Linked DNA regions of Homo sapiens: regions 2 and 3 are each linked to region 1. The links come from fine-mapping of genetic effects on gene expression. A gene starts in region 1. Each other region holds a variant in brackets. All regions are shown on one strand. Distances are from middle to middle.

What was found. PIP is the estimated chance that this variant, and not a neighbour inherited with it, causes the effect. A credible set is the group of variants that fine-mapping cannot tell apart.
Region 2: its variant is the best candidate, but not a certain one, in a credible set for the expression of DBI in whole blood (INTERVAL, PIP 0.65).
Region 3: its variant is the best candidate, but not a certain one, in a credible set for the expression of DBI in whole blood (TOPMed, PIP 0.56).

The regions. Positions count from the first base shown.
Region 1 is chr2:119,362,912-119,371,091 of GRCh38, reverse strand. DBI (diazepam binding inhibitor, acyl-CoA binding protein) reads right to left here and starts at 4,115. Exons shown (of 4, transcript NM_001079862.4): 1 at 4,032-4,115; 2 at 2,787-2,904; 3 at 290-352. The coding sequence starts at 4,040. It overlaps C2orf76 (chromosome 2 open reading frame 76), which reads left to right and starts at 4,258. Exons shown (of 6, transcript NM_001322331.2): 1 at 4,258-4,302. RefSeq lists enhancers at 2,995-3,194, 3,725-4,054, 4,425-4,684 and a silencer at 4,155-4,304.
Region 2 is chr2:119,285,828-119,294,007 of GRCh38, reverse strand. It overlaps a transcript of C2orf76 not described here. Among named protein-coding and RNA genes, the nearest start is that of STEAP3-AS1, 41 kb to the right of the region's middle. RefSeq lists an enhancer at 1,457-1,958. The variant C/T (reference allele first, on the strand shown) is at 3,392.
Region 3 is chr2:119,391,909-119,400,088 of GRCh38, reverse strand. No RefSeq gene overlaps it. Among named protein-coding and RNA genes, the nearest start is that of DBI, 29 kb to the right of the region's middle. The variant T/C (reference allele first, on the strand shown) is at 5,000.

The DNA of each region.
Region 1 (8,180 bases):
AAGCCTACGCCAACTACATCATTTCCCAAACTATTTTTCAGTGGCCTGGTTCCCAGCCCCTCCTCTCTAGATGATGCTCCTGCTCAGAGATGGTGCTTTTAGAAAAGGCATAAATGGTGTTAGGAGAAAAAGTAGGTGGCCCGGTTTTTTCCCATTCTGGCACAGGTCAGGCTGGTTTCCCACACGTGCCCCATTGACTTTGTTTTCTCTCCTCTTCCCTTACACTTCATAATGAAGACTCTTTCACTACTGGGTTTCACAAATGAGAGAAATTGATTAGAACAATTACCTTTCAGCTCATTCCAGGCATCCCACTTGGCCTTGCCCGTGAAGTCCAACATCCCGGGCCGTTCTTAAACAAGGGAAGAAAAGGCATTAGATCTGGTTCAAATTCTAATGGAGAACTTGATCAACCTTCTTGCCATAAATGCCATCTTCTATTACACCTGTTCCTTCTAGGCTCTGTCATGGGGTTAAATAGGTCTAGTAGAGTGGGTTCTGCCCTAAGAAAACCAATGTATGCCAATCCAAACTTAAAATCTAGAGCAAATAGGAAGAACAGTATTCTTATTACAAGATAGCCTTTGTCTTACAAGTTAAATGACTCCAAAATTTCTCTTTTAAAAAAATTATACTTTAATTACAATTAAAAAAAAAATCCATTCATATGTCTTAAAATTCAAAAGCTACAGAGGAAAATACTATAAAGTTTCTCTCTCACCCCTGCTGTTAGCTACCCAATTTCTCTCCCTAATCATTAATGATATCAGGTGTCCTTTCCTATGAACTGTTTATATCCTAGCCCCATTTTTCTACCGAATTGTTAGTCTATTTCTTGCTGATCTGTGGGAGATTTCACCGAGGGTAAGGTTTCTTTAAGTTATATGATGACTTTATGCTTATAGACCTGTTGTCATCTGCAGTTGGGAAACACACTCACCATCTCCCTGTTGTCCTATTTCACTACGATGCCCAGCCCCAAAGCCACAGGGAACAATCAGAGTCCGTAGCCTGGAGCACTGTGCCTGAGAAAATGTCCCTGAGCGCTTTCAGGGAAGTGTTCCCAGGGACAGCTGAAACAAACTGCCCTTGTGGTCATCATCAGGATCCTAGAATAGCACTCCTCGACAGCTCTCTCCAAGCGGTGGAAATGGAAATGTACATGTATATTTGCAATGTCCAATTCAGGAGCCACTTGCCACACCAAGTACCTGAAATGACTACTGGGCATCTGAAATGTGGTTCCTGTGAATGAAGACTAAACTTGATTTTATTTAACTATTTTCAGTTAAAATTTTTTTTTTTAGAGACAGAGTCTCGTTCTGTTGCCCAGGCTGGAGTGCAGTGGTGCGACCTCGGCTCACCACAACCTCTACCTCCCAGGTTCAAGCGATTCTCCTGCCTCAGCCTCCCAAGTAGCTGGGACTACAGGCATATGCCACCATGCCCAGCTAATTTTTGTATTTTTAGTAGAGATGGGGTTTCACTACGTTAGCCAGGTTGGTCTCAAACTCCTGACCTCATGATTCGCTTGCTTCGGCCTCCCAAAGTGCTGGGATTACAGGCATGAGCCATAGCGCCCAGCCTCAGTTAAAATTTATATAGTCATATGTGGCTACTGGCTATTATACTAAACTATCGTGTTTGGACTATCATGTTTTATAATCGTGTAATAGGGCTGTATAGTACAGCCCTAGAGAGAGCCGATGACACCTCTTTGATCAGTAAGTGATAGATTCCTATGCCAGTCTATCTAGACTCATGTGAAAATCGGTAACTCTAGTACGGGCACAGGCCAGTCTCTGTGAAAATACTGTTTGTCAGAAAAGCATCTTGGCACCTCTGGCCTCCCCCACTTCACCTTTCCTTCCCCTCCCTGGAAGGACAGAGTTTACGAACTCACTGTAAAACTCACCTTCGCCATAAGACCTTCTTCAACTAAGTGCTCCATGTGAACCCCAGGGTTTGATATGGTACTGCCTGTGATCTGTCATTCTGGGTACTATTTCCTGCTTCCAGCTGGTTGGCAGCCAGCCCACCTGCTCCATCTTCCACCCCAGCTACTGCGGAAATAGGGACCATGCTCGCCTTCTTCCTCAGCAGGGGCAGGGGAGACCTCCCTTCTGTGCTGCCATGATAACCCTGAGTCCTTGCACAGAATGCACTGCGCTGTTGCCTCAGTATCCACCCATGTTTCAGGGACTTAGGGACAGAATGAAACCTGCCCAAGGCAGGAAAGATGTTATTACAGAACATGACAGTCCAAAGCACAGCCTCAAAATCTGCACCAAGATTTCTGGGCAGGGAAAAAGTTATCATCAGGAAGGCACAGACTTGTTAGCGAAATGCTCTGACCTAGCCCAAGAAACCAGGTGCTTCTCTGCTCCTGACATCAGGCTTGGCCAGGCTGTCAAGTGCTCCAAAAAGTGCTCCAACTTTGATCCTGCCCATCTAGGGCAGAAGCTGAACGGCTCAACAATGATACTACTGAGCTGAGAGCCTTCAGCAAGTCTTTTCCAAGCTGCAGCCTTTGCTTCTTCCCTAGTAGAGAGTAGCTGCTGGTGATAACCAGTAAAGACCTTCTAAAACCAGGATTTGAATTCTGTTACTACTGGAGACACTGAGAATCCGGAACATGGTCTTTTCCACCTCAGGAACCATCACCATACCCCACCTGAAGAGTAGGGCCTCAGGCAGTTTGAGAGTGAAGTTCCCAGGGACTTCCAGTCTGAGCTGCTGAGCCTGCTTTGATGAGCAGATGCCCTTCCAACCCCCGCTCTGCATACCTGTATTTATGTCGCCCACAGTTGCTTGTTTGTAGTGGCCATAGATGAACAGCATCTCCTCATCCGATGGCTTGGTCTTAAGGTGCCTAACCTCCTCTGCAGCTTTCTCAAACTCAGCCTAAATGGAAGGGAGAGGAGAGGATTGAGGGCCTCCTCTGGGTGGGAGAGGGTAAGAATCCTACTGTGGCCTGATGACAGCCCAGTTACGGGGATGGAGAGGTGGGAAAGGTGGCACCCTTCGGGCAATGCAGCCCCTGAAGTGTGTCTGCCCCTCCCTGCCCCAACAGGGCAGCTAGAAAGATTCAGCAACACAAGAAGGGGAAGCCCCTCCAGTTCACTCATTCAATCGAAAACCATATATCCAGAGCTCTCACAAACGCAGGCATCAGGTCTGGAAATACAGCAGTGAAGAGGGCAGGCCAAGCCTTCGCCCCCAGTGGGGGTCCCCTCTGCGGGAGAAGCAGCGCGGCCAACTGCCTGGCCACCACCGGGCCAGGCACTAGGGAGTGGCCGGGGCTGCAGCGAAGCCCTGGCCTGAGGACAGACGGGGCACAGTATGCTGGAAACAGCTGAAAGGGGACAGGGCATGAGTGCCGCGGTGTCAGCGCCGGAGCCCGTTGGTCCCCTCCCTCCCCCTGGGGCCCGCGCGTTCAACACCGACCTCTGTCCCAGTGCCCGGATTGGCAGAGGCAGGCGGGAGGAGCCAGAGGTCGCCCCACATAGCTCGGTCTCAGACAAGGGTCTACACTGGAGAGAAGGGAGGGGCCCCTGGGTCACCTCTCCCCGGGCCGCGATTCTCCTCGTCCCGCACTCTGAGCAGCCGGCCCCGTACTTCCCCTGACCTCCAAGCTCTCGGCCACGGACTCCTCGCTTCCCCACTCCGCCGCGACGTCCTGCCCTGTGCTTCGGGATGGGGACTGAGTCTCCTCGCTCCTCCAATCCGTGCAACCCCTTCCCCCATCTCTCCATCAAGCACCCTCGACTCCCACCCCTCTCCCGCTACACAGCGAAGTCCACCCCATGGGCAACTTTCCGGCAGTTGCGGGGTGGGCAGCAGATTTAGAAATCCCCAAACGGAAAATCCCGCTCACAAGGCTCTGTCCAACGAATCAGGGCTAGGCATGGGCCCATGAGCAAGTGAGGGGCACGGAAGGAAAGAGCCCGAGAGCTTCTGGCAGCCGGCTGAGCCCCCAACGGGCCTCCCGCCCGCTGCACCTTCGCAGCCTGGCTGTGCACGCGCTGTACCTGAGACATCCTGGCCGACTTGCAAGAACTCCAGGGAGACAGCGGAGGAGGCGAGGACCAGGAAGCGATCGCCCAGATTGCACTGGCAAGCGCCTTTAGAGGCGCGGTCCACTCGCCCCAACCCTGCTCGGGCGAGCACCGGAAAGCCAATCAGAAGCCAGCTATGCGCTAGGGGCGTGCCCAGCCCCCGCCGCGGCGCTAGCCCCGCCCGAGCCCACGTGGGACCGCTTGCGCAAACGCCGGGAGTAGCCGAAGGGGACGCCGGGAACAGGTGGGGACAACGGAAGTAGGGTGCTTAGTTTTGCTGCCGGGAGTTGGTCGAGAGTTGGGTTCAGTCCTGGCCCGTTGTGGGGACGGCACGCGGGGGAAGGGGAGGGGACGGAGACCGAAGAACGGAGGTCCTTATGTTTCTTTTCTTTCCTTAAATCTTGCCCGGCCTGAAGAGGCCGGAAGTTGCATCTCTGGACAAGTAAACTCTGAGACCTGGGAATGGCGGGCGGGACCCGCTCCTCCCTTGGGGTCTAGAGGAGACCCCCGGAGATGGTCCCTGATGAGCAGCGTGATGGTGGAAAGCTGGACTGGTCTCCCGAAAGGCGAAGCCGAGGCTTCTTCCTCTGAACTTTTGGCACGTTCTTTGACTTGCTTGTGGCCGTAGTGTCAGGCCTGTATTGCACATTTATGTCTGTGGTGCATTTCTCCATCTGGTGCGTTAAAGGCAGGGACGGTGTCTTATTTGTCTTGATTTAACAAACTTGGACGGGACGAAGTGCTCAGCAAATATTTGTTAAATGAATGGCTGTTTATTGAACTCCTGTTGGGTAACTTGCACTGTTCTAGACCTTGGCAGACAGCAGTGAACAAAGCGGGTGAATCCCTGCAATCTTGGAACTTACAAGTAGGGACAGTAGTTTATACAATAAGTTAAATATAGAGTACTTTAGGGGCTTAGAGAGTTGGAAGTTTATAGTTTTAAATGGAGGAGGGGGAGTATTGAGGGAAGGTGACATTTGAGAAAGTTCCTCAAGGAGGGGAGGGAAGATTCCAAGCAGAGAACAAGTGTAAAGGCGTGGGCAAGGAACCAGGGGAAGAGTAGAAAGATGAGGCTGGAGAGTTTTGGCGGTGGCAGACTGGCTAGGTGATGCAGAAGTTGGCCATCACAGGGACTTTGACTGTCATGCTGAGTGAGATGGGAAATCGTAAAAGGGTTTGAAAAGAGGATGAGGAGACGGAGGGGAACGTCTTTGCGAGATTGTTACACAGCCTAATCTCCATGGGAACTGAAAGGAGCAGCACAGGTGTCTGGAAGTGTTTTAGGATCGATGTTTAAGAAGCTAAAGGAAGACTTCTCTGGCAGTGGTTGCAAAGGAGCTGGGTGAAGAGAGGGAAATGATGGAAAATTCTCTGGAGATCATTAAAAAAGCAAAGTCATTCCTCTCTAATTCATAATTTGTGGCAAGAGGGCTGGACTACAAATCTCTGCCCTGCCTACACCTTCCCCCTCCCCAGGGAAGGTAGACGCTTTCAGACTTAACTTGCTAACTTAATGTAGGTCACGTTTTATGGAATGTTTGGGAAGAAATGAAGATGCAATAGGGAACAAATCTAGGGTTTTCAGTCTGAGCATAATTTTGTTTGAGAAAGGAAAACCAAACAAATTAACAAAAATCTTGGAGTTAAATATGGGGAAAGTACACTGAAGTGTAAGAAATGCAGGTTTCTTCGAAAATCACAATTCAGAGCTGCTTTTTCCATTTGAGGCCTGGATTTGTTTTTGCTCTACTTGGTGCTTACAGCTTCCTTGATGGAAACTCAGATTATTGCTTGTGTGGGCCAGATTTGCAGTCAAATACATCTCCTAGTCAGCAGGTTTTAAGTTAGGGTATTGTTGAGATTAGGTACTTTGAGAATGCAGTTATCACTTCTCAAAGATCAGTTGCTTTTAGTTTTTTAGTTTTTGTTTTTTAATTATTTTCGCGTGTGATGTGGTCTCACTCTTTTACCTAGGCTGTAGTTCAGTGGCACAATCTCAGCTCTCTGCAGCCTTGAACTCCAGGCCTCAAGCGATCCTCCCACCTTAGCCTCCCGAGTAGCTGGAAATGTGGGCACAACCACCATGCCTGGCTAATTTTTTTATTTTTATTTTTATTTTTTGTAGAGATGGGGTCTTGCTATGTTGTTGGTCTTGATCTCCTGGGCTCAAGGGATTCTCCCACTTTGGCCTCCTAACGTGGTGGGAGTACAGGTGTGAGCCACTGCGCCTGGCCTTGATTGAATATTGCTTTTCATAATTCTGAGAATGCAAGATCCTCAGCTCTGTTTATGTCCTTGTTAGCCACCGTAACATGTTGTAATTATTTTATTTACAATTATTTTAATTTTAATTTACTTTTCTACTGTCTAACCCTCTGCCTCTGCCTCCCACCAAACACACATAAGCCAGGAGGAGATGGGGTCATTGTGTATCAGTCACTGCTGAATCTCCAAGTGTCTGGCACTTCTTAGGCACTCAACAAATAGTTGTTGAATGAATAAAGTGTTTTTCTCTCTATGAAGATTTATTCTGTCTGATTAACTGAACTTGGAAACCATCTAAATTTGTTAGAACTGAATGTAAAACTATGGGGTTGAGTAAAGTAGATGAACTCTGGTGCAAGGACCATGTAATCTCTTTGTACCACTCCCAGCTTTGGAAGCAGAGCACCTGGAGATGAGAAACCTGACCAGCCAACTTGTCAGCCAAATTGACCCTGCCAATCAATAGAGAGGCCATTGTCATTGTTGTAGTTTGCCTTCACATCTGGGAATACCACTTTTTATTTATTATTTATTTATATTTTTTTCATAGAAACCACTCTTGTCTGCCACAGGCTTCACTCGGTGGGTCTCAGAATAAAGCCAGATGGGCAAGATCTCTCTCTCTTTCTCTCTTCTCTCTCCTCTCTCCTCTCCCTCTCTCTCTGCCCTACCTCTCTCTCCCTCCCCCTTTCTCCTATCTCTGTCTGTCTGTCTGTCTGTCTGTCTCTCTCTCTCTCTCTATTTTTTTGAGACAGGGTCTCACTCCATTACCCAGGCTGGAGTGCAGTGGCACAATCATGGCTCACTGCAGCCTTGACTTCCTGGGCTCAGATGATTCTCCCACCTCAGCCTCCCGAGTAGCTGGGACTACAGGTGTGTGCCACCATGCCTGGCTAATTTTTTGTAGAGATGGGTTTTTGCCATGTTGCCTGGGTTGGTCTTGAACTCCTGAGCTCAAGTGATCCCTCTGCCTCGACCTCCCAGGATGCTGGGATTACAGGCCTAAGCCACTGTGCCTCGCCCTGGCAAGATATATTAATAAGTGAAAGCATTTCTTGCTCATTAGGTGGGAATAGTAGTTTCATATTAAGTTTCTTAGTATAAATGAAACCTCTAATTTCTGAAAGTAACCTAATCACCAGAAAATGAACTACGATTTCAGGAGAGCTTCCTAGTTGCTCTAGTAACTAGAGTTACTATAAGGCGAGGGTTAGGGTATCCACAAATGATGGATTACATTCATTCTGTATTTTCTTTCCGGTTACTTGGAATGTGACTCCTGTGGCAGGGCTTCAGCAGAGCTGGAGGAGACTAGTTTTTTTTTTTTGCCTTTTTTTTTTTTGAGACAGAGTCTTGCTCTGTCGCCCAGGCTGGAGTGTAGTGGTGCGATCTCGGCTCACTGCAAGCTCCGCCTCCCGGGTTCACGCCATTCTCCTGCCTCAGCCTCCCGAGTAGCTGGGACTATGGGTGCCCGCCACCACGCCCGGCTAATTTTTTGTATTTTGGGTAGAGACGGGGTTTCACTGTGTTAGCCAGGTTGGTCTCGATCTCCTGACCTCGTGATCCGCCCGTCTCGGCCTCCCAAAGTGCTGAGATTACAGGCGTGAGCCATGTCGCCTGGCCCAGGAGACTAGTTTTAAAGGGAAGAAGGGACTTTGGAAATGCTTCTGGATAGGATTGGGGAGGTATGGGTGGAGTTTTTTTGTGAAGGCTGAGGGAGGTGAGAGTTGGTGGGGGTGGGGTAAGAATGAAGCCTGGCTTTCCTCATAACTGGTGAGAGGAGGCCTGGCAGCTGGAGGTGTTAGCAAGTCCTGTGCCATTCCTACCCTCTCCTTCCTTTGGGTGTTCGTCTTC
Region 2 (8,180 bases), 77 kb after region 1:
TTTCAGTCCACAGCCCAGCTGCCCGCTGGAGTCCCTGCTGGGTGCTCCCCATCCCTGGTGAGGTGGCTGATAGGTATCCTCTGATAGATGCCTCAGATGATAACACACTCCAGCTGAGCCTCTGAGCTTTCTCCCTGAGGGTGGACCATGCTCAGTCTTCTCCACTGAAGGACATGACCTCCAGTCCTCCATTTGTTTAGGCCAGAAACCTTGGATATATATCTCTTTTTTCTTTTACCCCCACAGCCAGGCCATCAGCCAGTTCTGTCTGCTCCACGGGCGTTCAGAGTATATCCAGGGCCCAGGCGCCTCTCACCTTTTTCACTGCTACCACTGGGTCCAAGGCACCACCATTCTTACCTGGACTATTGCAGTCACCTTCCTTCCAACTGGGTTTCACTTCTCTCTCACTTCTACCCCACTACAATTCTTCCTGTTCTCATTCCTGCCCCGCTGCAATTCTTCACCCAGCCATCACAGTGATTCTTCTAGAACATGAGTCAGATCCTGTCATGCCTCAGTTCAAAACCCTTACTCAGAGAAAGAACCTTGGCCTTGGTCCTCTTCCTGGTGCACACCAAACATATGCACGCCCCAGGGCCAGCTGGTAAACATACACATGCCCCAGGGCCTTTGCACTTGCTCTTCCCTCTGTTTGCAGTGACTTTTCTACATTTTTTGCATGGTTTTCTCCCTTTCTGTCAGCTGTCTGCTCAAATGCCATAAAAGAGGCCTTCTCTGCTTATCCTAGATAAAATAGCAAATGCTTGCCCTTGCAAAACTCATTTGTCTATCTCTGTTTTACTTTTTTAAAAATCCTTTTCTGTTCCGTCTTCTGCTATTAGAATGTCTCCAATGTATAGAACAGTGGCTGGCACTTCATAGGCCAGCAGGGATGTTTCTGGGATGAGAGAATGACTTTAAAATTATATTTGTTTTTTGTTCGTTTGTTTGTTTTGTTTTGTTTTGTTTTGAGACAGAGTCTCATTGTGTCGCCCAGGCTGGAGTTCAGTGGCACAATCTCGGCTCACTGTAAGCTCTGCCTCCTGAGTTCAAGCGATTCTCCTGCCTCAGCCTCCTGAGTAGCTGGGACTACAGGCGCATGCCACCACACCCAGCTAATTTTTGTATTTTTAGTAGAGGCAGAGTTTCACTATGTTGGCCAGGCTGGTCTCAAACTCCTGACTTCAGGTGATCCGCCTGCCTTAGCCTCCCAAAGTGCTGGGATGACAGGCATGAGCCACCGCACCTGGCCTAAGATTGTATTTGAATGTTAAAGCGAAACTTTACAGCTTGTTGAAGCTCATCCCATAGCAATGTATTAACAGATCTGTGTAGACTGAATACACTCTCTAGGAGTTTCTTTAGTTGAAATTAGTCATCCAGATGTGTAAAGTGGTATAGACTGAGCTCTGGAATAATTGGTCAGCAGTCCTGTGTGCATATGTGTTTCAAATGGAGTTGAGGAAATGAGATGAAAACCTGTGTTGAAAGTTAGTTTGTTTTTGTCGGTCTGACTCGGGTCACTGCTGCACTTGCATTTTCATGCGGCTGACAGTTCTTTTCTGCCGCTAGGGCTCTGCGTATGCCCGGAGGCGGTCCTGAGCCTCCTGTGAGGGCTTTTTTACCAGCTGGAAAAAAAACAAAACAAAACTCAAACGCTGTGGTGGTTAGTCACAATAGGCAAGATAAGTGTCCTAGATTGTCATTTGTTTCTGTTTGAACTGTTCCCTGGAAAACTAAGTAGAAAACTGAACAGTGGATTGTACAACTGTACAAATTAAGGCAGAATTTTTTTCCCCACTTGCCTTAAAGCAAAGTTGCTTGTTTTAAAAGTGACCTAGAAGTGAACTTGTGGTGACATTTAAAATTATACAAATTGGAAAAGGCAAATGGTGCACTTTTGCATATATTGGAATCATTTGTCTTTCTGTGTTTGCTTTAGGCAAGCATGAGTGGGAAGAGAGAGCTCCGCTTGGACATAGGCAGCCCGGGGTTGGAAGAACACAGGCATTGTTGCTAGCTTGGAGGTGTGACCTTGGGTGAGCTGCTTGGCCTCTCCAGGTCTCAGTTTCTGGCTCTGTTAAGTGGGGATGATAACACTGACCTTCCAGAATTTCTCTGTGACTTTGTTAAGGTGACCTAGCTCGGTGCCTGACTAAACATATTGTTTTGGGGAATAATTTCTGTTACACTGCTATTTTACAAAGAAATACTACTAATCCCATCGCGCAGAGAGAACATTTAGACACTGAATAGGAGGTTGTCCCCCATGAGTGCTAGGCAGTGGAGCCAGGCCTCTTCCTACAAGGCAGGGGTGTCCGGCTGCTGCCCGTTCTCCCCCTCCACCTGTCAGCTCCAACCACACCACCCAGCAGTGTTCTTGGACCCAGGGAAGGACTCGTTTTTTATTTTCCAAGAACCTTCTCTTCCCATTTCATTTCCCGAGGTGCCTTGCCCTTGGATTCAGCCAGCCCTGAGCACATTACCTGTCACATGTTTCCCTGACATATCCCCTTTCTTCTGGTTGCAATTTTCCCCAATTAGGAGTAATGGGCTCATTAACAACAGCCGGCACTTTAAATTTCCTTTCTATAAGGATAAAGCCGTCCCTTTCACTATTCTCTGGCTGTAACTTGCTTCAGGTGGGATGGGGTGGAGTGAGGTGGTAGAATGAATGGATACACAGCTTGTTCAAGGAAATAGAATCTCTGGGAAGAAAAATCTTGCAAAGGCAGGTTTTGTAGTTAGAATATTCTAGATACCTGCCAGGCACCAGCCGATTAATGCCCAGCCGTTCATCTTTACATCTTGCCGAGCAGCTTCTCCTCGGTATGACACCTTTCCTGCCATATTAGCAGAGCCTCGTTACGCGGAGAAGTCCAGGCTGCAGGTCAGGTGGAGTGGCTCTGCACTTGTCCGCCTTTGCCTACCCTTCAGCCACCAGGTGGCAGCAGAGTCTGTCTGGGCCTGGGAACTGATGAGGCCGAGCCGGTGTCAGTCATTTGTTAAGGACTGTGTTCAATAGGTTTGTCCCCCTGTAAGTCAGCCTTGGCGTCTGATAGCTGAAAGTCAAAGCCATCAGCTTGTAGATGGGGTGGCATGTTGTACTAGTGCTCAACAGCGACCATGCAATTGCTACTGCCTAAAATTTTATTTTTATTTTTATTATTTTTTTGAGGCGGAGTCTCACTCTGTCGCCCAGGCTGGAGTGCAGTGGCACGATCTCGGCTCACCGCAACCTCCGCCTCCCAGGTTCAAGCGAGTCTCCTGTCTCAGCCTCCTGAGTAGCTGGGATTACAAGCGTGCAATGCCACGCCAGGCTAATTTTTGTATTTTTAGTAGAGACAGGGTTTTGCCATGTTGGCCGGGTTGGTCTCGAACTCCTTAC[C/T]TCAGGTGATCCACCCGCCTTCGCCTCCCAAAGTGCTGGCATTACAGGCATGAGCCACCACTCCCAGCCTAAAATTTTATTTTAAAAGTCAATGCTTAATTATTTCAAAGCCAATACCTAACTTTAGTCAGTTTTACCTCTATAGTCTTATTTCCTTCTTTTTCTTTTATACCACTCTATTTAATGATGGGCCATTTCTAAAAAGAAGACTAATAATGTGTCAACGCTTTGGAAAACGTCCCTGTATATTTGTTGAGGATTCCTTAAAGCTGAAGGTTGAAAGGTCGTGAGCCGGTTTCTATGGCTTCTGTGTTAAATGCTTCCTAGTACAACAATTGATAGGCAGCCTCCTCCATTTGGCCCAGGTGAGGTGCTTAAAAAATTCCTTCTCAAACCAATTGCAGGGAGACGTTCTTCTGCTTGGTGGAGGGGCTTGGAAGCTGTCCTTTAGCTTGGGCATATGTGAGCCTGTAAGCAGTGCCCAGAGCTTTGGGGTCAAATGGTGACTCCCATGCAGGGGCAGGGACGCAGGAATTACTTTGCAGAGGGAATGTCCCTCTTCCCTTCTGAAGACTGAATGTTCTCACACATAATTAGGCAATGCCAGTAACTCTTTGGATAGTGTACAAAACCCTATGTTTGTTTCTAGGTTATTTTAAAAATTAAGAAATCTCACTTTAAGGCAGCAGACAGAATAAAAACCAGTCTGCCCTGGTGCAGAGCGGTGCCTCTGTGGTCTCTCTTCCTGGCTTAGCTGGGTGTGGCTGACAGCAGAGAACTACTACCGGCAGAGGGCTGAGTTGGGGCTACGAGCGGGGCCTGAGACAAGGTCTAAAGTGGCAGGGTCTCTTTATAGCTCTGTGGACCCCCTTGGTGTCTAATTCCAGTCCCCAGTCCTGTCAAAGCCACCCTGCACTTTTTTTTTTTTTCTTGAGACGGAGTCTCACTCTGTCGCCAGGCTGGAGTGCAGTGGTACGATCTCGGCTCACTGCAACCTCCGCCTCCTGGGTTCAATCGATTCTCCTGCCTCAGCCTCCCAAGTAGCTGGGACTATAGGCGCGTGCCACCACGCCCAGCTAATTTTTGTATTTTTAGTAGAGATGAGGTTTCACCGTGTTGGCCAGGATGGTCTCGATCACTTGACCTCCTGATCTGCCCACGTCAGCCTCCCAAAGTGCTAGGATTACAGGCGTGAGCCACTGCGCCCGGCCACCCTGCGCTTTAATGCAGACACCACAGCTGGTAGACGCTTCCAGACTAAGATGTCAAGGAGACTTGGTTAAGTGCAAGATGGAACACAGAAGCTAAACCACAGGAGAGTAGAATCTTAAGAAGGCTGATTTGAGGCAGAGTACAGTATGTCCCTACCTTCTGGCTGCATGAGACCTCCTGACATAGCGCACATTCTGCAGCCTTAAGGCCCCCGTGTTTGCTAGAAATGCGTTGGGACCTGCCTGCAAAGGTCCTGGTAACTGGCCTTCCTCGGGCTCCAAGTCAAAGGGACAGAGTAGTTTCTAGAGCCAGCAATTCTCTCTGTATTCTCTCTTCCTCTCTTTCCAACATGTTGGCTTTTTCAGTGTCTTGGCCCAGGGTTGCTTATACACTTGAAAGTAGAGCAGCTTGAAGACAGATTATTTCGGTTTTCCCTGAAAGCCTTCGAGAGTCAGGGAAATTTTGCTAGAAGGCTTGAGGTGTAAGAGAGGGAGAGGAGGCTGGGGGCTGGAGTGACTCACCAAGGCTGAGGGGATGGAGCTTGTGGGTTCTACCATTGCCACGTGTCTTGTTCTGGGGAGGTGACTTGTCCTCAGAGGGGAATAGCTGACCCTAAGCAGGTGAGTGCCTCCTCTCCAGTCTCTGGCCTGAGCAAGGCCTGCGGCTTCCAGGTTCTGAGGGTGAGTGTCTAGCTTCTGGTGGATGGTGCTTTCTGCCAGTGTCGGGGTTGGAGCTTTCTCTGCTCTTACAATTCCACCCTTCCATCCACTTCCCGCCTTCAAAACTTGGATCAACTCTCTTGTCCTCGATGTCCTCTCTCTGGGTCTCTTTGTCTTCATGAGTTTATGTTTGTATTATCCCCTTACTCCCATCTTAATGGGGTTTTCAGAGGAGATGATGTAAATGAATAATCAGCCTCTCATGTTTAACTTTGGAAATCTGCTTGCTTGCTCTCTCCCTTACTTTTTTAAAATTGAAGTATACTGTAATCCCAGCACTTTGGGAGGCTGAGGTGGGTGGATCACGAGGTCAGGAGATAGAGACCACGGTGAAACCCCGTCTCTACTAAAAATACAAAAAATTAGCTGGGCGCAGTGGCAGGCGCCTGTAGTCCGAGCTACTCGGGAGGCTGAGGCAGGAGAATGGCGGGAACCCGGAAGGCGGAGCTTGCAGTGAGCCGAGATGGCGTCACTGCACTCCAGCCTGGGCGACAGAGTGAGACTCTGTCTCAAAAAAAAAAAAAAAATTGAAGTATAATTTACAGATGGTGAAATGCAAAGATCTTAGATATGCAGTTCTTTGGGTTTTGACAAGTGCACGACCCACATCTAAGTCAAGATGCAGAACATGCCCACCACCCCCAAAACCTCCTTTGTGCCATCACAGTCCCCTCTCTGCCCCTCTGTCATCACCCACCACTGCCCTCTGTCATCAGCCACTACTGCTGTGATTTCTGTCACCATAGGTAAATTTGGGCCTTCATTTTTGAATATTTGAGGGTAATGTATATGGTCCAAATCACTCTCCCAACACAACCAACTAACTGAAGACCAACTCTAATATTATAAGAAATTGGAATTTAAGTAAGAACAATGCCATTTTATTTTAAACACACACAGTTGCGTCCAAATCTAACCTCTTCCTTCAGGAGTAAGGAGAGAAGATGTGTTGTCTTCTAGAATTTCCTTCATAACCAGAACTTCATGTCAGTTAAAAATTTCTGCCATGAAAAAAAACTCAAGGAATCAAGAAAGAGCCTCAATGTCTTCGAACAAATATCACGTCTCCTCAGATCTTCCATGTCATATTCCCCTTTGTTGTTCTCAACAAAAACAGAGACTTCCCATCTTAAAAATGTATATGTGATGTCTTATTAAAAAAAAAAACATGTTATTAGCCCTGCTTTCAAATAACCCTCTAAAGTTGTATACTTGAGGGCAGAGGCCCTTGTGGTGGGGTTGTGGGAGAGGGTCTCGGGCGGTGTGTATGTATGTACATGGGAACCTGTGATGGTGAGCTGGTGGGGACTGAGGTGTGATAGTTGCCTGGTTTCTGGCTGGTAGGCACTTCCATTATGTGGATATTGCATATGTGACAAAAGCCATATTTCAAAATTTCAAGTATTTTTCCAGCAAGGTCCAGCAAGCTCTGCAGGACAAGCCATCAGAAGCGAGACTGAGCCAGGCATAAAACAGCCAGCATTTATCAAGTGCTTGCCCTGTCAGGCCTCACTAAAGCACTTTGCAGATATTTACTCACTACTGCTCACAACCCCTGTGAGGTAGGTACTAGTTATCTGCATCTTACAGATGGGGAAGGGGCACTTGGAGGTAAAGTGACCTGCCCGAGGTTTCCCAGCTCCTAAGTGATGGAGCCTGCCAGAACCAACCATCAGGAGGGACTTCGCAGGTGAAAGAAGGTTCTTCTGCTCACTGGGGGTACTAAGAAGAAATTCCTAGTCCATAGCTGGAGCAAGTGAAACCCTTCTTTGCCTTTCACTACTTGCTGATACCTCCTCAACAGAAGTCAGCTCAGAATTGCTGGAATGAACATCTCATGAGAACGGCCTCCCCTTCCCTTCCCACCGCCATTGCCCTGCTTTGGGCCTCATCATTTCTCATCCTGACCGCAGAGACACTCTCCCGTCTGGTGTCCTTCCCTGCAGACTCTCATCCACCGAGTCCAGCCTTCATGCCGCTGCCAGAGTGATCTTTTAAAAATGCAAGTCTGACTGCTGTATCCCTCCCTGTTCAGAACCATCGGATGGGTCCTTGTTTCCTTCCGAATCACGAGCACACTCTGGCATGGTGTAGTGGGGCTTCTTTGGTTTGATCTCTGGCTACATCTCCAGCTTCTCCTCCAGCTATGGAATTTGGCACCTCCTCCTGTCTCCCCCAGCTCTCCCCTGTCCCCTTACCCTGTTCTCTCTGGGCACACCATGCTGCCACTTTCTCAGACTTCCCACTCTGGTCTCTGAATGTTCCACCAGACTAGCATTCATCCTGGGAGGCACAACCAAGGACCATCTTGTCCTTAAGGTCCTTTCCATCCCACCTTCCCAGCACTTCACAGCCAGGAGACTGGTCCCTGCTCTCCTTTTCATCCTGCTGTGTGCTGGCCAGTCCTCTGGAGCACTGATCACACACTGTGGCCTTGCTTTTTTTTTTTTTTTTTTTTTTTGAGATGGAGTCCTGCTCTGTCACCAGGCTGGAGTGCGGCGGCATGATCTTGGCTCACTGCAGCCTCTGCCTCCTGGGTTCAAGCAATTCTCCTGTCTTAGCCTCCCAAGTAGCTGGGACTACAGGTGCCCACCACTATGCCCAGCTAATTTTTGTATTTTTAGTAGAGATGGGGTTTCACCATGTTGGCCAGGATGGTCTCGATCTCTTGACCTCGTGATCCGCCCGCCTTGGCCTCCCAAAGTGCTGGGATTACAGGCGTGAGCCACTGTGCCTGGCCGGCCTTGCTTTTTTATATACTGACCTTCCCCAAACGATGTGGCTCTCCCTGAGGTTGAAGATCAGGCTTACTCTTGCATCTCCATGGCCTGCACACACTGGGAGTTGATAAATGCAAG
Region 3 (8,180 bases), 29 kb before region 1:
GGGAGTCTGAGGCAGGAGAATCGCTTGAACCCAGAAGGCGGAGGTTGCAGTGAGCTGAGATCGCGCCACTGCACTCCAGCCTGGGTGACAGAGTGAGATTCTGTCTTAAAAAAAAAAAAGTTACTTTGTTCTAGTCTGGATCCCCCAGGGTCCATGCACTGTGCTGTGTTGATTTGTCTCTCAGAGGCTCTCCTCTCTTTACTTCCCCGTAGCATGTATTTTATTTCGACAAAACTGGATTGTTTGTTGTGCCACCCAGATTTTGCTGATTGTATCCCCATGGAGTAGCTTGACGCGTTCTTTCCCTGCCCCCTGTATTTCCTGAAAGCTGATAGATCTGGGGTTTTGATCAGATTGGGGTTAGATTATTTGGGAAGAAGACCCAGAGGTGCTGCAGTGGTTTCATCACATGGTTCCCAGGTGACAGGGAACTCTGGAGAGCAGGGAGACATCTTATTTATTTGTGTATCTCCAGAGCCTAATGCGGGACTGCAGTGTTGCAGTCTATAAACATGTGAGCCCAAAGACCAAGAATTTCAGCAGCGGCCTCTGTAAAGGTGAGAACCTGGCCTCCATTTGCTTTAGGCCCCCTGGACCCAGCAGTGGGTGTGGGCAACTTGTATCCCTTCTCCCGGTCAATGTGATGCTCCCTCTCTGTCCAGGGTCTCCTCCTTACCCTGGATCCACCTCAGACCTGGGCATGGTGGGTGAGTCTGCTCCAGGGCTGTTCTGTCCCAGGCTCTCCCTGTCCCCAGGATGGACAGAGATGGGGGCAGGAGGAAGTGGAGAGTCATCATTTCCTTTTTTCCATGAAAAGCCCAAGAGGAGGCAACGTGGAGTGTTAGGGTGAGGGCTCTGGGGCCAGATGCCTGCATTTGCAGCTCGGCCCTGCCCCTTACCAACTGTGCATCTTGCACAACTTACTTAACCTCTCTGTGTCTCAGCTTCTTACTCTATGAAGAAAGAATAAGTTAGTGCCTAGTCCATGTAATAGCATAGAATAGACTTCCTGGTGCACAGCTCCAAAATGCTGCTGTTGACTATTCTTCTTGTAATTAGCTATTTAACCTGCCTGGACATCCAGGCGAGCACTGGGGCGTCTCAGGTGGTGCAGTTGGGGAAGGAAGTGTCCCCTGGGGGGAGGCAGGAGGAGCCCTGAGGAAGGCAGCTTCGCCCCGGTGCAGCTTCCCTTGCTCTCTGATGCCTGAGCATGAACCACGGATGAGTCATCTCTCAGGTAGAGCATTGCATTGTTCCCCATTTCTCCTTTTGGAAAGCAAATATTCCCAGACGGCATTAAATCCTAAGCATTTCTGGGGCTGGGACTAAAAGGAAGGGAAAAATGCTGAAAATGGAGAATTGGAAGCGGGTGTTTGTAAAGGGCAGTTCTGCTCCCATTCTTGGGGAGCAGCTCACAGGTACGAGGCTCTGAGCATGTGTAGCTCCTGAAATGAATGGGACTGTCCCAGGATGTCCCTGAGAAGGACAGGCCTTCCAGGGCTATTCTTAAAGGGAGTGAGTGGGTGTGTGCGTGTGTGTGTATGTGTGTGGGAGAAGAGAGAGAGAGAGATGAAAATCTTCAGTTTGGGATGGGGCATGTGTATCAGAAAAACACATTCAAATTAAAAGAACTCATATTTGGGCCTGGCATAGTGGCTCACACCTGTAATCCCAGCACTTTGGGAGGCCAAGGTGGGTGGATCCTTTGAGGTCAGGGGTTCGAGACCAGCCTGATCAACATGGTGAAATACTGTCCATACTAAACTACAAAAATTAGCCGGGTGTGGTAGCAGGCTCCTGTAATTCCAGCTACTCTGGAGGCTGAGGCGGGAGAATACAGGAGAATTGCTTGAACCCAGGAAGTGGAGGTTGCAGTGAGCTGAGATCACGTCACTGCTTCCAGTCTAGGCAAAGGAGCAAGACTCTGTCTCAAAAAAAAAAAAAAAAAAAAAAAGAACTCATATTTGGAAAAGGAAAAACTCACGGTGTTGCAACACAGGCAGCAAAGGGAAAGCGTTGATTGGTGAAGCTGTGAAGGGCTTTCACAAATGAGCACCCTGCTTCTGCGGGGACCAAGGATGACCCTGTCTCCAGGAGGCTGTGAAAATGCTGGGTAGGTAGAGGTATCCGCTCATCCTCTGGAGACAAAAGCTCAAAGTGCTTCGCAGGTGGAGCCACCCCACTCCCCCAACTCCCCTTGCCTGGTCGGGAGACTGGGAGTGGTCTATCTTAGCCAGATGTGCCCCGTCTTTGTTTTCCATCACTGGCTTAGCCAGATGTGCCCCGTCTTTGTTTTCCATCACTGGCCCAGCCTCACCGTGCTCTGCTTCCAGTCCACTGAGGGTGGGTATGGAGTGATGAGAAGTGGGTGACTTGCTGAGTCAAAGTATCTCAGTCTTCTCCAATTTAAAAGAGACTTTTTTCAAAGACTTAGCCCCTTCAGAATTAAGACTTCCCATCAGTTCTTCTCCTCGCTGAAGGGGTCTCCTCTCTCACCCTTCCTTCTCAAGGGGATAGGGGCAGAAGGATGGACCCTGGCCTGGAACTGTCACAGGGCCCCCACTGGATCCCTTACCGAGGTGTGAGTGCCTTAGGGAACTCAGGGCCGTGTCAGGCCTTCTCCCCAAGTCCCTGGGCTGGCCTGCCCTTGCCTGGGCGCTTGCTGGCCTGACCTTGCCTGGGTGCTTGCTGGCCTGGGCTGGCCTGCCCTTGCCTGGGCGCTTGCTGGGGCTGCCATCCTTGAGGCCTGGATGTCGCTCTTTTTCAAGCTCTGGCCCTAAAGTCCAGCCTGTTCCTCCTCCTCAGGCTCTCTTCCTCAGAGGGAGCCAGCCCCGGGTTACCTTTGGGACCCCTGGGCATCTCTGGATGCTGGAGCTCTCTGGGCCTGGCCCTCAGTGCTGGGGCCCCATTCTCCTAGGCAGGGGGCCTCAGCATTCCTAAGACCCAGCAGAGTATCCAGAAGCAGGGAAGGAGCCACCTGTCGGATCCAACATCCCACCCCCACACCACCTGAGTATTTTGCTCTTGTAGGACTTAGCCTCCTTCCTCCGTACTCAGCCCAAGAAGATGCGAAAGACACTGTGGGCTCACCTCCAGCCCTTCCCTCCCTCCCTGCCAGCTCTGCCCCCTCACACCTCCTTGGAGGCCCTCCTCTGTCTCATGGAGCGCAACAGCCTGGTCATTCTGTATCTTCTTGATACTGTAGTTTATATTAATGGTCTAGTCTCATCCCTCGAAGCTTTACTTTTGATAAGTAATGGGAAGTGTTTGGAGGTCAGAAAACCTTGTCTGTCTTCATAAAGTTGAGTTTTAAACATTCTTGTCTTTCTAGGATTTAATAAAAAAAATCAGTTTGAAAGGGCATTAATGACATGTTCAAAAGACATCTTTTTTCTATGTGTGTAGCTTCAAAAGTGACTCAGTAGGCCGGGCATGGTGGCTCACGCTTGTAATCCCAAAGCTTTGGGAGGCCGAGGTAGAAGGATTGCTTGAGGACAGGAGTTTGAGATCAGCCTGGACATGGTGAGACTCAGTCTCTAGAAAAAATTTAAAAATTAGCCAGGTAAGGTGGCACATACCCATTGTCCTAACTACTTGAGAGGCTGAGGTGGGAGGATAGCTTGAGCCCAAGGGTTCGAGGCTTCAGTGAGCTCTAAATGCACCATCGCACTCCAGTCCAGGCAACAGAATAAGACCTTGTCTTTAAAAAAAAAAAAAAGACTCAGCAGTAAGCAGTAGTATTTTGCTTAATTCTAAGTGCCAAGGTTTTGTACTCTAATATAACTCTACACCAAAGGAATCAGGATTCTAGTAGAAGGTAACTGATGGCCTGTCTGTGTCCTGGGAGTTAAGAAAGATCAGGATGGTCCTAGAATATCCTGCTGTTGGCCCCAAACAATGGAAGGTTTCAAAAATTTGGCACCAAAAGAACTGCTTGGCCAAACTGTAACAATTGGCAACAATTTATCATAATCTGAGCATCAAAATGGAATACTTGTATTGTTAAGAATAAGTTTAGTCTAAAAAGACATGCGAATATAATGATACCTGAAAAAGAAATGTTTATAGAAAGTGTAAAAAGATAGTATTTAAATAAATTGCAGTAGTGAGGAGAGTGTGGATATGTCTGTTTCTAAGTCTATGTAAGACGCATTCTCCATGTGTAAGTGGTAAAGAATAAACATGGAAGCGTGAGCAAGTGAGAGATGACCAGGAAAAGCAAGGAGGACCTATCAGTGTTGTCAGTCACACAAAGCCCCAGAGTAGAACGATGCCCAAGAGTGCTGCACAATGATGGACCAGGTGAGTCTCCCAGAGAGACCAGCTGTCCAGACTGCATCCGTGACTTCTGGGGGATGAGATCTCTAGTTGTCCTAATTAATCAAAATGCATCCTAATCTTGGGTGATGGGTGCACCAAAATCTCACAAATCATCACTAAAGAACTTAGTCATGTAACCAAATACACTACCTGTCCCCCAATAATCTATGAAAAAAAAAGCATCCTAATAAAACAAGCATATGTTTCCTCCTGTCCCTCTTTCTCCTCTTCCTTTTCCTCCTTCTCTTTCTTCTTCTACTTAATCTCTGCTCCTTGTTTTTCAGGATATGTTTGCTGTATCGCTTGAAGGTATCAATATATGCGTTACAAGCTCTAAAAAGGTAAAAGGACAAGTGTAAGGATGGTGATTATAAGAAGCCTCCTGGCTGGGCGCGGTGTAATCCCAGCACTTTAGGAGGCTGAAGGGGGCGGATCACGAGGTCAAGAGATTGAGACCATCCTGGCTAACATGGTGAAACCCAGTCTCTACTAAAACTACAAAAATCAGCCAGGTGTGGTGGCCTGCGCCTGTAATCCCAGCTACACGGGAGGCTGAGGCAGGAGAATTGCTTGAACCCAGGAGGCGGAGGTTGCAGTGAGCCGTGATCGTGCCACTGCACTCCAGCCTGGCAACAGAGCGAGACTCCATCTTAAAAAAAAAAAAAAGAAGCCTCCTGGC[T/C]GGGTGCAGTGGCTCACGCCTGTAATCCCAGCACTTTGGGAGGCTAAGGCGGGTGGATCACTTGAGGTCAGGAGTTCAAGGCCAGCCTGGCCAACATGGTGAAACCCTGTCTCTACTAAAAATACAAAAATTAGCTGGGCATAGTGGTGCACCTGTAATCCCAGCTACTTGGGAGGCTGAGGCACGAGAATTGCTTGAACCCGGAGGCAAAGTTTGCAGTGAACCGAGATAGCACCACTTTACTCCAGTCTGGGAGACAGAGCAAGACTCTGTCTCAAAAAAAAAAAAAAAAAAAAAAGTAGAAAAAAAGAAAGAGGACGCTCATACTGGTGGTATTTTAGAACAAGTTTAAATGTAATCTTTTGTCTGGTATATTTGTGGATATTTTGTTTCAGTCTAAATCTTTTTCTTAAAAAGCCAGGAGGTAAATGTTTTTGGCTTTACAGGCCATGTGGTTACTGTTGCAACCACTCAACTCTGCTGTTGTACAGGGAAAGCAGCCATACACTATATGGAAATGATGGTGTGGCTATGTGCTAATAAAACTTTATTTGTAAAATCAGGCAGTGAGCCTCAGTTTGCTGACTCCTGGAGTAGAATATTTGAAGTGTGAGGTAATCTGTCATGATAAAACCATAATTTTAGTTTAAGTCACATAGGAAATGTATTGAATAACATCTGTAATCAGTGTCCAAATGTTAAAGAAAAATCATTCTCTAAATGTGGTTTATTAAAACTGCATTCTGTTTAATCAAGGCAGTATTAATTACCACACAAAAGCCCTTCTGATATGAAAATAGTCTACTGATGCTAATGATAGAGCCGAATCTAAATTCTCAAATCTTTGAACTGGTAAAATAATTCCCATTAAGGTGGTGTGGCAGAGACTAGCCGACTACTAAGCAAACCATTTCCTCTTTTCTCTGGGCACACACAGCTGGACTATATTTCCCAGCCTTTCTTACAATTTGGGTGCCTTGTGCCTGAATTCTAGCCAATGGAATATCAACAAAAGTGATGCATGTCAATTCAAGACCTAGCCTATCAAAACCTCCATTGTTGGCTGGGTGCGGTGGCTCACACCTATAATCCCAGCACTTTGGGAGGCCAAGGCAGGAGGATCACCTGAGGTCAGGAGTTCAAGACCAGCCTGGCCAACATAGTGAAACCCCATTTCTACTAAAAATACAAAATTAGCTGGGTGTGGTGGCACATGCCTGTAGTCCCAGCTACTTGGGAGGCTGAGGCAGGACAATCGCATGAAGCTGGGAAGCAGAGGTTGCGGTGGACTGAGATCACACCACTGTACTCCAGCCAGGGTGACAGAGCGAGACTCTGCTCAAAAAAACAAAAACAAAAACCTCCATTGTCCTTCCCAGTCCTCATGCTGAGCTCAGAGGCCCCCAAGGCTGTAAAGGAAGGCAGAGGCAGAACCTGGAAGGAGCCATCCACTCAGCAAGAACTCTATTTTGTGCTTCCCATGACTGAGCAATAAAATTATATTTTTATATACATATATATACATACACACATATATATGTTTCTTTCCTATGAATACATGCCTATGATAAAGTTTAATTTATAAATTAGGCACAGTAAGAGATTAATAATAACTAATAATAAAATAGAGCAAATATAACAATATAGTATAATAGAAGTTATGTGAATTGTCTCTTTTTCAAATATCTTATTATATGTAATATTTTTGGACTGTGGTTGGCTGCAGGAGACTGAAAACTTGGAAAGTGAAACTGTGGATAAGGGGGGCTCTTGTATCTTAAGTGTGGCAATGATTGCTGGCTGTGGGGATTTACTAATAGAATTTGTTTTGGAATACCTTGAATGGGGTACAGCTGAGGAAGACAAGAAGGAGATGAAATTTTGACACCCATCTGTTCATCCATTCAATAAGTGTGTTTATTGAGGATTTATGTGGCTAACCTCTGAGACAGGGAAGATACAGCCGCTGCCTTCAAGGACCTTACCCAGGAGGAAGCAGGCAGTTGTGCTAACAAATAATTGTAACAAAGCATGTAGCTGGGGGCAGTGGCTCATGCCTGTAATTCCAGCACTTTGGGAGGCTGAAGCGGGTGGATCACTTGAGGTCAGGAGTTCGAGATCAGCCTGGCCGACATGGGGAAACCATGTCTCTACCAAAAACACAAAAATTAGCCAGGCTTGGTGGTGCACACCTGTAATCCCAGTTACTCAGGAGGCCAAGGTGGAAGAATCGCTTGAACCCAGGAGGTGGAGGTTGCAGTGAGCCTAGATTGCACCACTGCATTCCAGCCTGGGTGACACAGTGTGACTCCTTCTCAAAATAATAAATAAATAAATAAAAATAAAGCATCTAGAGTTCTGTGATAGAAATGTGTCCCTGTGGGTGGCTTGGATAGAGGAGGGTGTTATCAGTTGCAAGAGAGGAGGGAACAGCTTTTTCAAGGCCATACAAGGGTGCTATAACCTGGGGCCAGTTAGGCAGGGGAAAGTTGGGGTGGGGAGGCATAGCAGGAGGCGACTCAGAGAAGCAGTTCCCTCTCAGATCCCACCAGGCAGGTGAGAAGAGGCAGGCGGTGGGGTCCAGGATTGGGCTCTGCATAAAGAGATCAGGGTTTGGCATAAATCTATACCTGCAGTGTCAATTCCAGCCACCAAAAGCAGAGGCTGCACAGTCAGCCAGGCAATAGGACTTGAGTAAGCTTGTGGGGACCCCCAAAATGACGGTTGGTTCAGTCATAGGAGCTCCAGTGCTTCCTATGCAGGTTCATTCTTTGAATGCTCATACTGAATGGCTACCGTGTGCCAGGTGCAGTCCCTATTCCACTGTCCATCGGGCAGTGGGGGCAACAGACACACAGACAGATTATTTAGATTCCACGCCCTTTGTTAGTCCACTGAAAAACCTTGTTCCCTCCACATAATAAAACTCACTCCATGTATTGAGTAGGTACTGGATGCCAGGCACTTTATACATTTGAACACATTTGATTTCATTCAATCATCATAATAATCCCTTTTAGTGATGAGTAAATGGAGTTCCGGAGAGGTTAGCGGTAAGTAGCAGAGCCAGGATTTGAAACCAGGCCTGCTGGAACTGAAGTAAATCCCATGCTTTATGTACTCTGTCCCAAAGCTCCCTCTCTAGACACTTCACACTTTGCTCATCAGGCCCCAAGGCCTT